Linked DNA regions of Homo sapiens. The protein of the gene in region 3 interacts with the protein of the main gene of each other region in a pairwise test. Each region holds a gene or a part of one and is shown on either strand. Other genes may lie near its edges.

Region 1 (3,231 bases), on a different chromosome or scaffold from region 3:
GCGATAGTAACCAGTAACAGCACGGTACTGTAATAAAAACAGACACATAGACCAACGGAACAGAAGAGAGAACCCAAAAACAAGTTCAGACACCTACTCATTTTTGACAAAAGTGCCAAAAACATACACATGGGAAAAGACAGTCTCTTCAATAAATAGTGCTGGGAAAACTGTACATTCATGTGCAGAAGAATGAAACTAGTCCCCTATCTCTCCCCATATACAAAAATCAAATCAAAATGAATTAAAGACTTAAATAAAAGTAAACTATGAAACTGCTATAAGAAAACATTGGGGAAACTCTCTAGGGCATTGGTCTCAGCAAAAATTCCTTGAGTAAGATTCCACAAGCACAGGCCACCAAAGCAAAAATGGACACATAGGATTACATCACGTTAAAAAGCTTCTGCACAGCAAAGGAAGCAATCAACAAAATGAAGAGACAACCCACAGAATGGAAGAAAATATTTGTAAACTATGCATCTGACAAGGGATTAATAACCAGAATATATAAGGAGCTCAAACAAATCTGTACGGAAAAAAAAAATCTAATAATCTGATTAGAAATGGACAAAAGAACCAAATAGATGTTTTGGAATCCTCATTCGCTATTAGTGGGGATGGAAATTAGTACAACCACTATGGAGAACAGTTTGGAGGTTTCTCAAAAAACAAAGAATGAAGCTACCATATGACACAGAAATCCCACTGCTGGTGCTAAACTCATCTTTAGCATCAAACCTAATCTCTAGTCCCTGACACCATGAGCTACTACAGCAGCTACTATGGAGGCCTGGTATACATCCAAAGGAAGGGAAAACAGTATATCAAAGAGATATGTGCACTCCCATGTTTGTTGCAGCACTGTTCATAATAGCAAAGATTTGGAAGCAACCTAATTTTCCACCAACAGATGAATGGATAAAGAAAATGTGGTATGTATACACAATGGAGTACTAGTCAACCATAAAAAATAATGAGATCCTGTCATTTGCAACAGAATGGATGGAACTGGTCGTCATTATGCTAAGTGAAATAAGTCAGGCACAGAAAAACAAACTTTGTATGTTCTCACTTATTTGTGGGAGCTAAAAATTGAAAACAATTGAACTCATGGAGATAGAGACTAGAAGGATGGTTAACAGAGAATGGAAAGGGGAGTAGGTGGGTGCAGGGTAGGGGTGGGGAGGGATGTGAGTGATGGAGGAGTAGGGGTGGTTAATGGGTACAAAGGAATAGAAATGATGAATAAGACCTAGTATTTGATAGCACAAAAGTGTGGCCATACTAAGTTATACTCTCTTAGTTATTTTAAAATGTATAATTAAATTGCATTTAAATTAAATTATTGATTTAATCGAACATTTTAAAATAAGAGAGTGTAATTGAATTGCTTTAACACAAAGGATAAATGCTTGAGGGGATGGATACCCTATTTATCATTTACCAGTGATTATTACTCCATTAACCAGTGATTAGTATGCATTGTCATGTCTGTATAAAAGTATTTCATATACCCCATAGATATATATACTCTACTATGTATTCTTAAAAATAAAATTTGAAAAAAGAAAAATAATATTTAATGGAACTTCATGGGAAAAGTGTATGCAGAGGAAAAGGTACACTTTTGAAGTTAATGGATGAATAAAAAATTGGGAAGAAGCCTAACAAAAAATTGGCAGAGGAAGCTAATTGAAGGTTTCTCATAGAAATTAAGGCAAGAAAGCTTTACAAAAGAATGAATGGATGGAAGGTTAGCAATGTCAAAGGTCAATTAAAGTTCAAATGAGTCAAAAACCAAGGTTTCCTCTAAATTTGACTACTGGAAATCACTAATGACTTTGTGACTATGCCCTGACTACCATGAAGAGAAGTCCTTGGGTTCTGGGAATGAAGTAACCAAGACGATGGACTGCAAATTAAAAAGAAAAGCAATATGAGGTTATGTAATTACAGCGTTACTGGAAGCTATCAACCCGATTAGACCATTTTAATTACAACACCAGCCTGGCCTTTGAAGTGGCTATAATCATTTTTCATCTTCAAAATATTTTGTTCTTAGGAATGCAAACTAAAGACTAAAAGTCTTTAAATAATAGTTTGGACCCTTTGTTACATAAGAAAAGAAAAAAAATAAACAATTGTTAGACTTAAAATTATTCTGTTATGTGGAAATAAGATCACCTGTCATTGTTGTTCATGACACCCACTACTTAGAGTATAAAATCATTCTGAGAAGTTAGAGACACCTACACTCAGGAAACTCATCATTAGCATTGAACTGAATCTCTAGTCCCTGACACCATGAGATACTATGGCAGCTACTACAGAGGCCTGGGATATGGCTGTGGAGGCTTTGGTGGTCTGGGCTATGGCTGTGGCTGTGGAGGCTACAGATATGGCTCTGGCTATGGAGGCTATAGATATGGCTGCTGCCGCCCATCATGCCGTGAAGGATATGGATTCTCTGGATTCTACTAAAAAACTTGCTGATTCTCATACTCTAACTCCAAGATCTTGCCCGTATGCTTCAGCAAGGCGAACACTTTTCTCAATGTAGAGAAAATACCTACCATTTTTTGGCTTCATGCTCCAGAAGGAACTAGCCATCAGTTTTTATGGAAGAATCTGGAATCATTACATTGAATCAGGGTTTCACCTATTATTATTTAGTCACTGACATCTGTTGTGACATGTATTTTAAAATAGTTTTAAATAAACACGTTTAACTTGAATAGCAAACATGGCTTTATCAATTCATTTTAGTACATTTCAAATGCATTGATGAGACTTCAATCAAGCTGTTTGTCTTCTTTCCTCTGAATTGGTGTTTTTATTTCAACAGTTTTGCCTCAATAATATATTTTATTCAACATATATTCATTGTGTGTCTCCAAATTTGGGCACCATTCTAAGTCCTGAAGATATAAAAGAATAAGATGGACAAAATCACTGTGTACTTTCATCTGTCTTTACTTTTTATCTGTTTTCAGTGGTTTTGTGTGTGATTTTGTTTTTAGAATATGATTATGTACACTATTATTTTTATGACTTAGTTTTAAACAATAACTTATTGCAATCTTCATTCCAATTAGTGTGTTTGTATTCTGAGGTTTATCTCAAAGCACAGTAATTCTATGTTAATCAATGAAAGCGAATTTTAAATAAAACATTGAGTTAATATAAATAATATTTGTAATAATACGTAAGGTCTAAAGAATGCTATCA
Region 2 (3,751 bases), on a different chromosome or scaffold from region 3:
AAGATATGTTTGGGGGAATCTCAAGTTAGCCAATACTGTTATTGTGTGAAGTTCACAACAGGGGCAGGGAGGACAGGAGATGGGGCCCAATGACGAAAAGGCCTTGTATGTACCATGTTTAGAAGTTTGAATTTTATCCTATAGGAGTCAGGGAGAGGTTCTATGGGTAGGATTTCCCATCCCAACAGGATTGTAAACTCCCACATCCAATTAGTCACACCTCCATTTTTTTTTCTGTTTCTTTAACATTGTCTCAGATTCATTCCTTCTGAAATCTACCTTATTAGTTCAGGTCTTCTTAAATTTGTGCCTGGACTGTTCACCAACTCTTGACTGGTCCTGGGGCTCCAGTTCACCTCTTGCTCCCAACAATCAATTTTCTACAGAACTATCAGAGCAATCTTCCTTTCCATCAATCTCAACTCTGTTCAAAAACTTTCAATAGTTTTATGTGACCTAAGAGGTAGCTGCCTCCCCACCCTTTCAGCTTGCCATTCAAGGCTGCATAATTTGGTCCCAACCCCCTTTCCGTCCTTGACTCCTCTCACTGCTAACAGAGACAGAACTCATTTACTTACTCTTTTGACTGTACCTTTGCTTTCACGAGGGCTCTTTCCTGGAATGATATGTCCATACAACTATTGTTGTTGTTCTTACTTTTAGCTCTTTTCTTAGCCCACTTGTACCCAGGTTTGATCACACCCCCTACTCTCCTGCCCTGGAAGTAACTACTATTCTGGTTATAGTCTCTTAATATCTATATCTATATCTATATATATGCATCCACAGATAATGTGTAGTATTGTCTTGAAAAAAATATACATAAATGGTATACTTTGTCTCCCTCTGCGATTATTTTCACTATCATTTAGTTTTTAAGATTTATCCCTATTGACATAAATAGCTATAGTCTTTTCAATTACTGTGTTGCATTTCATTTTATAAATATACCATACATTATTCATCCATTCCTCTAAGGGTGGGCATTTATGTTGTTTTCAAGGTTTTGCTATTACAGTGTTACAACGAATATCCTTAGCTTAGCTGGTCTCCTTGTCTTATACAAATTTTACTGACCTTTCAAGATCCTGCTTTCATCCCAGCTCCTCTGGGAAAGCCTTCCCTGAATCCCCCAGCCCACAGCGGCAAAGTCTTGGTACTCAAAGTTGCTTGTGCATCTTTGGTATCATCCCACTGCCAAGCACACAGCTACGCAAAGTAAGGCACTTAAGAAATATTCGCTACACGGATGAACAAATGAATGAATGAATGGGGCAGCACCACTCCGTGATGGCTCTATTCCTTTTTAATGGACTTTGGCGCCTTGGCCCACTTTCCTTCTTTGACAGCACTGGTCCTACTCCAGAGCATTCCTCTAGCTAGCAAAGCAGTGTGTGGATGTGTGGGTGTAGGTGGCGATACAGACCTCACTGGATGAGGACCGCCTCTCCCTGCAAGTTCACGATCCCGGCAAACTCCAGTGCTTGAAGTTCAGAGTCCTACCCCACCCCCCTCACCTCCACGCCCCTTCTGCACTGGTCAAGCCAGCGAGCCGCTGCAGCCCTGATCGAGTTAAGGCTGCTGGAGAAGGATGCGGACGGGGCCAGTGACTCGTAGTAGATCCCTCCGCGCGGAGCTCGGGCCGGCGCTTCTTCCTGCGGGAAACCCCTGGGTGCCCAAGGCGGCGGGGCCGAGGCCGCGGCGACAGTGGGGCGGGGCTTGCGGTGGGAGGAGGCGGCTGAGGCGGAAGGACACACGAGGCTGCTTCGCTGCACACCCGAGAAAGTTTCAGCCAAACTTCGGGCGGCGGCTGAGGCGGCGGCCGAGGAGCGGCGGACTCGGGGCGCGGGGAGTCGAGGCATTTGCGCCTGTGCTTCGGACCGTAGCGCCAGGGCCTGAGCCTTTGAAGCAGGAGGAGGGGAGGAGAGAGTGGGGCTCCTCTATCGGGACCCCCTCCCCATGTGGATCTGCCCAGGCGGCGGCGGCGGCGGCGGCGGCGGCGGAGGAGGCGGCGACCGAGAAGATGCCCGCCCTGCGCCGCTCTGCTGTGGGCGCTGCTGGCGCTCTGGCTGTGCTGCGCGACCCCCGCGCATGGTGAGTATCGGGCTGAGGGGCGCTGTCCGCGGCGCCCGGGGCTGCCACCTGGGGCGACCCTTCTCCCCCTCGGTCCTTCTCTGTGTGGGAAGGCCAGGCTCGGCCGCCGGCGCGGAGCGAGGCCACTCGCTGGGTTCCCGAGAGTTTGGACATCGCCGGGGGCCCCTCCCGTGGTGCCCCGCCAACCGCCGGGGTTCCCCGCCAACCGCCGGGGTTCCCCGCCGCCTCTGCTCCCCGCGGCCCGGGACCCCTCACACGCCTCCTCGGCAGGAGGGAGGCCGGCAGCAAGTCTCAGAAACTCCTTTTTCGTAGTGCCAGGGTGCAGGGAGGTGGGCAGTTTTGCCCTTCAGGTTCCGCGTTTCTTGGGGTCGAGCGAGAGCCGACGGCGGGCCTCGGAGGGGCTGAGCGAAGGCGTGCCAGATTCTGGCGTGGAGAGCGGGGGCAGGGCCGCCAAGCCAAACGGCCTGCACCTTCGCAGCCAGCCTCGCCTTTGCCAGGGGGCGGCACATGGGCCGGGTGTGTGGGCTTGGTTTGGATGGGGACGGGGTTTTGCGGCGCGCCTGAGTTTTGACACTCCAACCCCACCGAAAGTCCGGAGGAGCCGGGTGTGCTGCTCGCGTCTTTGAAAGGTGGAGGCAGGAGAAGTAGGGCAACTGGTGTGGCTGCATGCTGAGGCACATGATTTAAAAATCTCAACTGCTGTTATTCTTTCCGAGGCGCGGAGCTCTGCTGCTGTTTCAGGCTGTGTCCAGACCCAGGAATGTGGTGTGACGATCACCAATTCCTCCAACCTGGCAGCAGCATTTGCTGCTCCTTTGGCATGGCTGGGGGTGGGGCACGGGCGGGTGAGAAAAAGTGGATACGTCAATTCAAAGGGCTTCCTTAGAAAGCTTCTTTATGGTTGGATGTTTCTAACACGGTTGGACCAAGGAAAGGGAATCAAATCATATCTTCCCCATCCCACCCACACTTTTAGATTCTACATTTCTTCAGACCCTTTAGTGGAAATAACTTGGGCTTTGGAGCCCTGCTCTGTAATCCTGGATTCAAATCCAGCTCTGCTATATGAACTCACCAATAAAATGGGAATGAAATTATCCAGCTAATAGGATTAATTAAAATAATGTATATTAAACGGATGACACTCCAAAGGTGTTCAGAAAGTCCTTTGAGGGCCGAGGCTGTGTTTTACTGCTTCTGAGATTGATGCTCCCAGTGGGATGGTGTCTTGTGCATATTTGTTGAACGGAAAGCAGCCCCTTCTTTTTCTGAGCCTAATCTGAATAAAGATTTTTACCTTCACCAAAAAACTAGTACATGAACTACATCTGTTTTCAAAGAAAAGGTTAGGAAGATGATGAGCTTCAGAAAAATATGGTCTTTGTTCATTGTTAACAGTCAGTCGACATGTCAATCGCAGATGTTTAAAAAGAGAACAAGGTTATTTATCACCCGAAAATAGTACTGGGTTGTTCAGCACCAACTAGATACTTCTTGGAAAGTTCAAATTTCGTACACGTCTAGGTCACTAAGAATTTCAGAAGTGGACCAGGAGGCTTTGTAGTGATGAAGCAGAGCTGTTGTTTCTGAAGCATTTAATAAAGAGCATATATGATGGTGTTTTTGCTTTTCCTTTTTCTTTGAATGAAAGCTTTAA
Region 3 (3,751 bases):
AGAAAGCAGTGATGACTGACCTCCCACACAGATGCCCTGTAAGGGTCTGGCGTCTCTGCGGCGGCTGGAGCCTGAGGGAAGCCTTACAGCCCAGTGGCTACAAGCACAGCAGCTAATTGGGCCAGTCACTTCCAGCCCCTGCAGATCGGCCCCTGCATCCCTAGGACGGGAGCAGCTGCCTCTCAGGAACCCATCCGGTTTGAAGCCCAGTGGCCCGCACTTAGGAAGTGCTTGGGGGAGGCAGTCATCTTCCTGAAGCCTAGGGATTTACAACAAAGTACAAACCCTTCGGGCCCAGGTCAGGCACCTGTTCTCCTTGTGTGTGGGCCCTGGTGGGTGATATTTGGGGTGTGACATTTCTACCAAAGGGGACATGAGAAATACCTTAGGAAAGTCAAGTCTCAGATGCCCAGCCACAGATAGGTGACCCCAGGGCTGGAAACCAAGTGTTGGTCATGGGTCTGAGACCACCCCTCGACCTTGGCCCCACCTAACGTTCAACTCTGTCCCCACCAGAACCCAACCCACAGATCCTCACCACTCAGCACCAGAAAGCGCCCAGAAGAACTCCTGACCTCGACTGCCCACAGGGTCTAAAGGTGTCATCCCAGGCTCCGAATATCCACCAGAGAATCTTGGCCTCCGCCACACCCACCCCATTCCAGCTCCGCACATCCAGCATGAATCCTGGCCTCTGCCACACCCACCCCAATAATTAAAAAGAAAAAAGGCTGGGTGCGGTTGCTCACACCTGTAATCCCAGCACTTTGAGAGGCTGAGGTGGGCAGATCACCTGAGGTCAGGAATTCAAGACCAGCCTGGCCAACATGGTGAAACCCTGTCTCTACTAAAATACAAAAATTAGCCGGGCGTAGTAGCGGGCTCCTGTAATCCCAGCTACTCCGAGGCTGAGGCAGGGAGAATTGCTTGAACCCAGGAGGCGGAGGTGCAGTGAGCCAAGATCGTGGCATTGAACTCCAGCCTGGGCAACAGAGCAACACTCCGACTCAAAAAAAAAAAAAAACAAAAAACAAACAAAAAACAACAAAAAACAAAAACAAACCCTCTGTCCTCCTGCAGGGCTCTCTCCAGGGTGGGCTATGCGTCCTCCATGTTTACCAAAGTCACTCTTCTCCTCATCCGGAGGGCCTCTGCGGGGCAAGTAGCCAACCCGTGGCACGGAAACCAATTCCCCCATCCCGAGCAGGGAGCACACCCCACAGAAAGTCAGGGGCCCCTTCTTTAACTTCTTAACAGGAAGTCCTCACCCTGCAAGGGCGCCTCTCAGGTTTCGGATCCCTGCTAAAGAAAAGCATCTGTTCTTGGAGTAAACTGCAATGCGCGCGGTGGGGAGCGCCTGGCACCCCCCCTCGGGATCCATCCACAGTCCGTCTTGTCCAGAGGTGCCCTGCGGACAGACCGCACCGGGGGCCACGACCCCGCGCCCCGGGTCCCACCTCCCCGCGGGGATGGGGCGCCGGCCTCCCCTCCACTGCGCGGCGCTTTGTCCTCGGGTTCCCGGAGCAGACGGCGGCGCACAGCCCGGCCCCTGGCCCCGGCCTCCCTCCCGCCTGCCCCGACCCCTCCCTGGCGCCTGCGCTCCCAGGGCCCCCGGCCTTACCACAGCCGCTCGCTCCCTGCACCCGGTCCCCCCAGCCGGGTCCCCCAAGCCGCCCCCGCTCCCTGGCCAGGTCCGGCCGAACCCGGGCGGCGGCGACACTCACCCGCGCCGGGGGCGCCGGCTCCGGGCCCCGGGCTCCGCCACCAGCGCAGCAGAGCCCGCGCGGGCTCCAGGCTCACGGCGCAGCGCTGCTGCTTCACCCACAGCACGGATTGCAGCGGCTCCGCCGCCCCCGTCGCCCCCATCTCCGCCGCCGGGCTCGTCCGCCAGGCTGGGGGCGCGCGGACGCCGAGGGGCGCCGGACCGTTAGCGGCCCCTGCAGTGGCCCGGGCGGCGGGCGGCGGGCGGCGGGAGGCGGCGCTGCGTCACCCCGTACGCGGGCGGCGGGGACCGCGGAGGGGACGGGCGGGGCGGGGGCGAGGAGGAGGCGTGGGTAGAGGAGGGGCCGGGAGCCAGGGAGAGACGGGGGGACCCGAGAAGGGGAGAAGAGGGAGGAGGAAGGGGCCGGGATGGGGCTGGCCGAGGCCAGGGCGCTGGGGCCGGGAGGCGGCTGCCTTTCTCTCCTCTCTTCTCCGGCGGGTGCCGGGTGCTGAATCTGGCGCTCCCGCGGCCGGCCGGGACTCAGTGGCGCCTTCCGCGCGGGCCTCGGTTCAGGCGGGGTCCGGGCGGCGTGGAAACGCAGTCCTGGCGATCGGGCGCGGCGGGGGGCGGGCCTGGATGGGGGCGCCACGGGCGACGTGACCTTGGGCGGCGGGTGCCCTCTACGATCCTGGCGTCCTGTCGGCCTGGGAGGGGGCCTGCAGCTGGGCCCCGACAGGCAGGTAAGGCTTTCAGGAGGCGGAGGTCTTTTTAGGGGGCGGGGGCGCTGGCCCTTTGAACTGCTCTGGGGCCTGAAGCCACAGAGCAGACAGCTGAGCAGCCGCCCCCGAGCTGGCCCTAGGAACCGGAGCCTGGGCCCCAGACTTGGAGAGACACGGCCCCTGTGGCCCCAATTCACCGCCTCCCCAGGAAGGCCTCCTTGACCCCACAGCTGAAGGAATCACCAGCCTGCAGGGACTCCAGCCCTGCCTTCAGAGCACGCCGTGCGCCTTCATGCAAGCTCCAGTCTCTGCGTCCGCAGTGCTTAACACAGCCCCATAGGAAGCAGCCACAACCTGGTTCGGAGGGCACATCCCTCCCTGATTTATCAGTGAAGACTGTGCTCACAGAGGTTAAGTCACTTGCCCAAGAGCACAGGGCTCCAGTGTGGCAGAGCCTAGGCTCACACTGACACTGCCTGGATGTGACACTGAGGTCTGAGGCCTGCCCCTCCCCTCGGCTCCCCTACCCAGCCCTGCTGCTGCAGGCAGAGGTGAGGTGGGCTAGGTCCACGTGGCCTTGCTGCTGTGCCTGGCACCAGGTGGCAGCATATACAGGTCTTACCCTGCCAGCTCCTTGTGACTGTCTTGTCTATAGGGCGGGAACCAGCCATGAATCATTCCTCCCTGGGAGCCCAGCCCCTGTTCAGGCCATGCAGTGAAGGCCCCAGGACAGTCCTGCAGCCACCGTGGGCCCAGTCAGAGTCCTAGCAGGCAGTACCTGATCGTGGCACACAGTGGGGTGTGCAGCAGCGAGGCCTGCCCAGCCTCCTCCCTCCCTCAGCTGCCGCTCTGAGGCCTGGGAAATGTGGATCTGAAACTTACTTGGAAAGAAAAGCTCATGCCAGTGGCAGGAGGGTGCCGCTGCATGCGAAGAGGGTTGGCAGGCAAGGGTGGCATGGGCAGGGGCCCGAGAGCACCAGCGTCCCTACTGGGGACCCCTTCCCTGGGCCTCCCTGTGCTTAGGCTCCCCGTGCCCCTCCCGGCGTATTCACGTTGCTGTCCCCCGGCTGCACGCCTTGGCTTAAAATCCTGCAGCCAGAGGTGGGGGCCCAGAGACGACTCAGAAGTGCTTAGGCCCCGAAGGAGCTCCGTTGGGGGAGACAGCAACATCAGTTACAAAACACACAGGAGATTCAATGAGGCTGTTAGGGTGGGCCCTCATCCAGCGCGTCCTTACAAGAAGAGGAAATGTTGACCGGGCTCTGTGGCTCACACCTGTAATCCCAGCACTTTGGGAGGCTGAAGCGGGTGGATCACCTGAAGTCAGGCA

What was found.
Region 1: the proteins of CERK (region 3) and KRTAP19-6 interact in binary tests that used the Homo sapiens proteins (3 or more experiments, as listed by UniProt).
Region 2: the proteins of CERK (region 3) and NOTCH2NLC interact in binary tests that used the Homo sapiens proteins (3 or more experiments, as listed by UniProt).

What each region holds. Positions count from the first base shown.
Region 1 is NC_000021.9:30,540,910-30,544,140, reverse strand, and holds KRTAP19-6 (keratin-associated protein 19-6), read left to right. Parts: upstream 1-2,276; 5' UTR 2,277-2,307; coding exon 2,308-2,484; 3' UTR 2,485-2,606; downstream 2,607-3,231. UniProt on the Homo sapiens protein: In the hair cortex, hair keratin intermediate filaments are embedded in an interfilamentous matrix, consisting of hair keratin-associated proteins (KRTAP), which are essential for the formation of a rigid and resistant hair shaft through their extensive disulfide bond cross-linking with abundant cysteine residues of hair keratins.
Region 2 is NC_000001.11:149,388,829-149,392,579, forward strand, and holds the start of NOTCH2NLC (notch homolog 2 N-terminal-like protein C), read left to right. Parts: upstream 1-1,792; 5' UTR 1,793-1,959; coding exon 1,960-2,094; intron 2,095-3,751. UniProt on the Homo sapiens protein: Human-specific protein that promotes neural progenitor proliferation and evolutionary expansion of the brain neocortex by regulating the Notch signaling pathway.
Region 3 is NC_000022.11:46,736,283-46,740,033, forward strand, and holds the start of CERK (ceramide kinase), read right to left. Parts: upstream 1,971-3,751; 5' UTR 1,867-1,970; coding exon 1,725-1,866; intron 111-1,724; exon of another isoform or gene 21-110; intron 1-20. UniProt on the Homo sapiens protein: Catalyzes specifically the phosphorylation of ceramide to form ceramide 1-phosphate.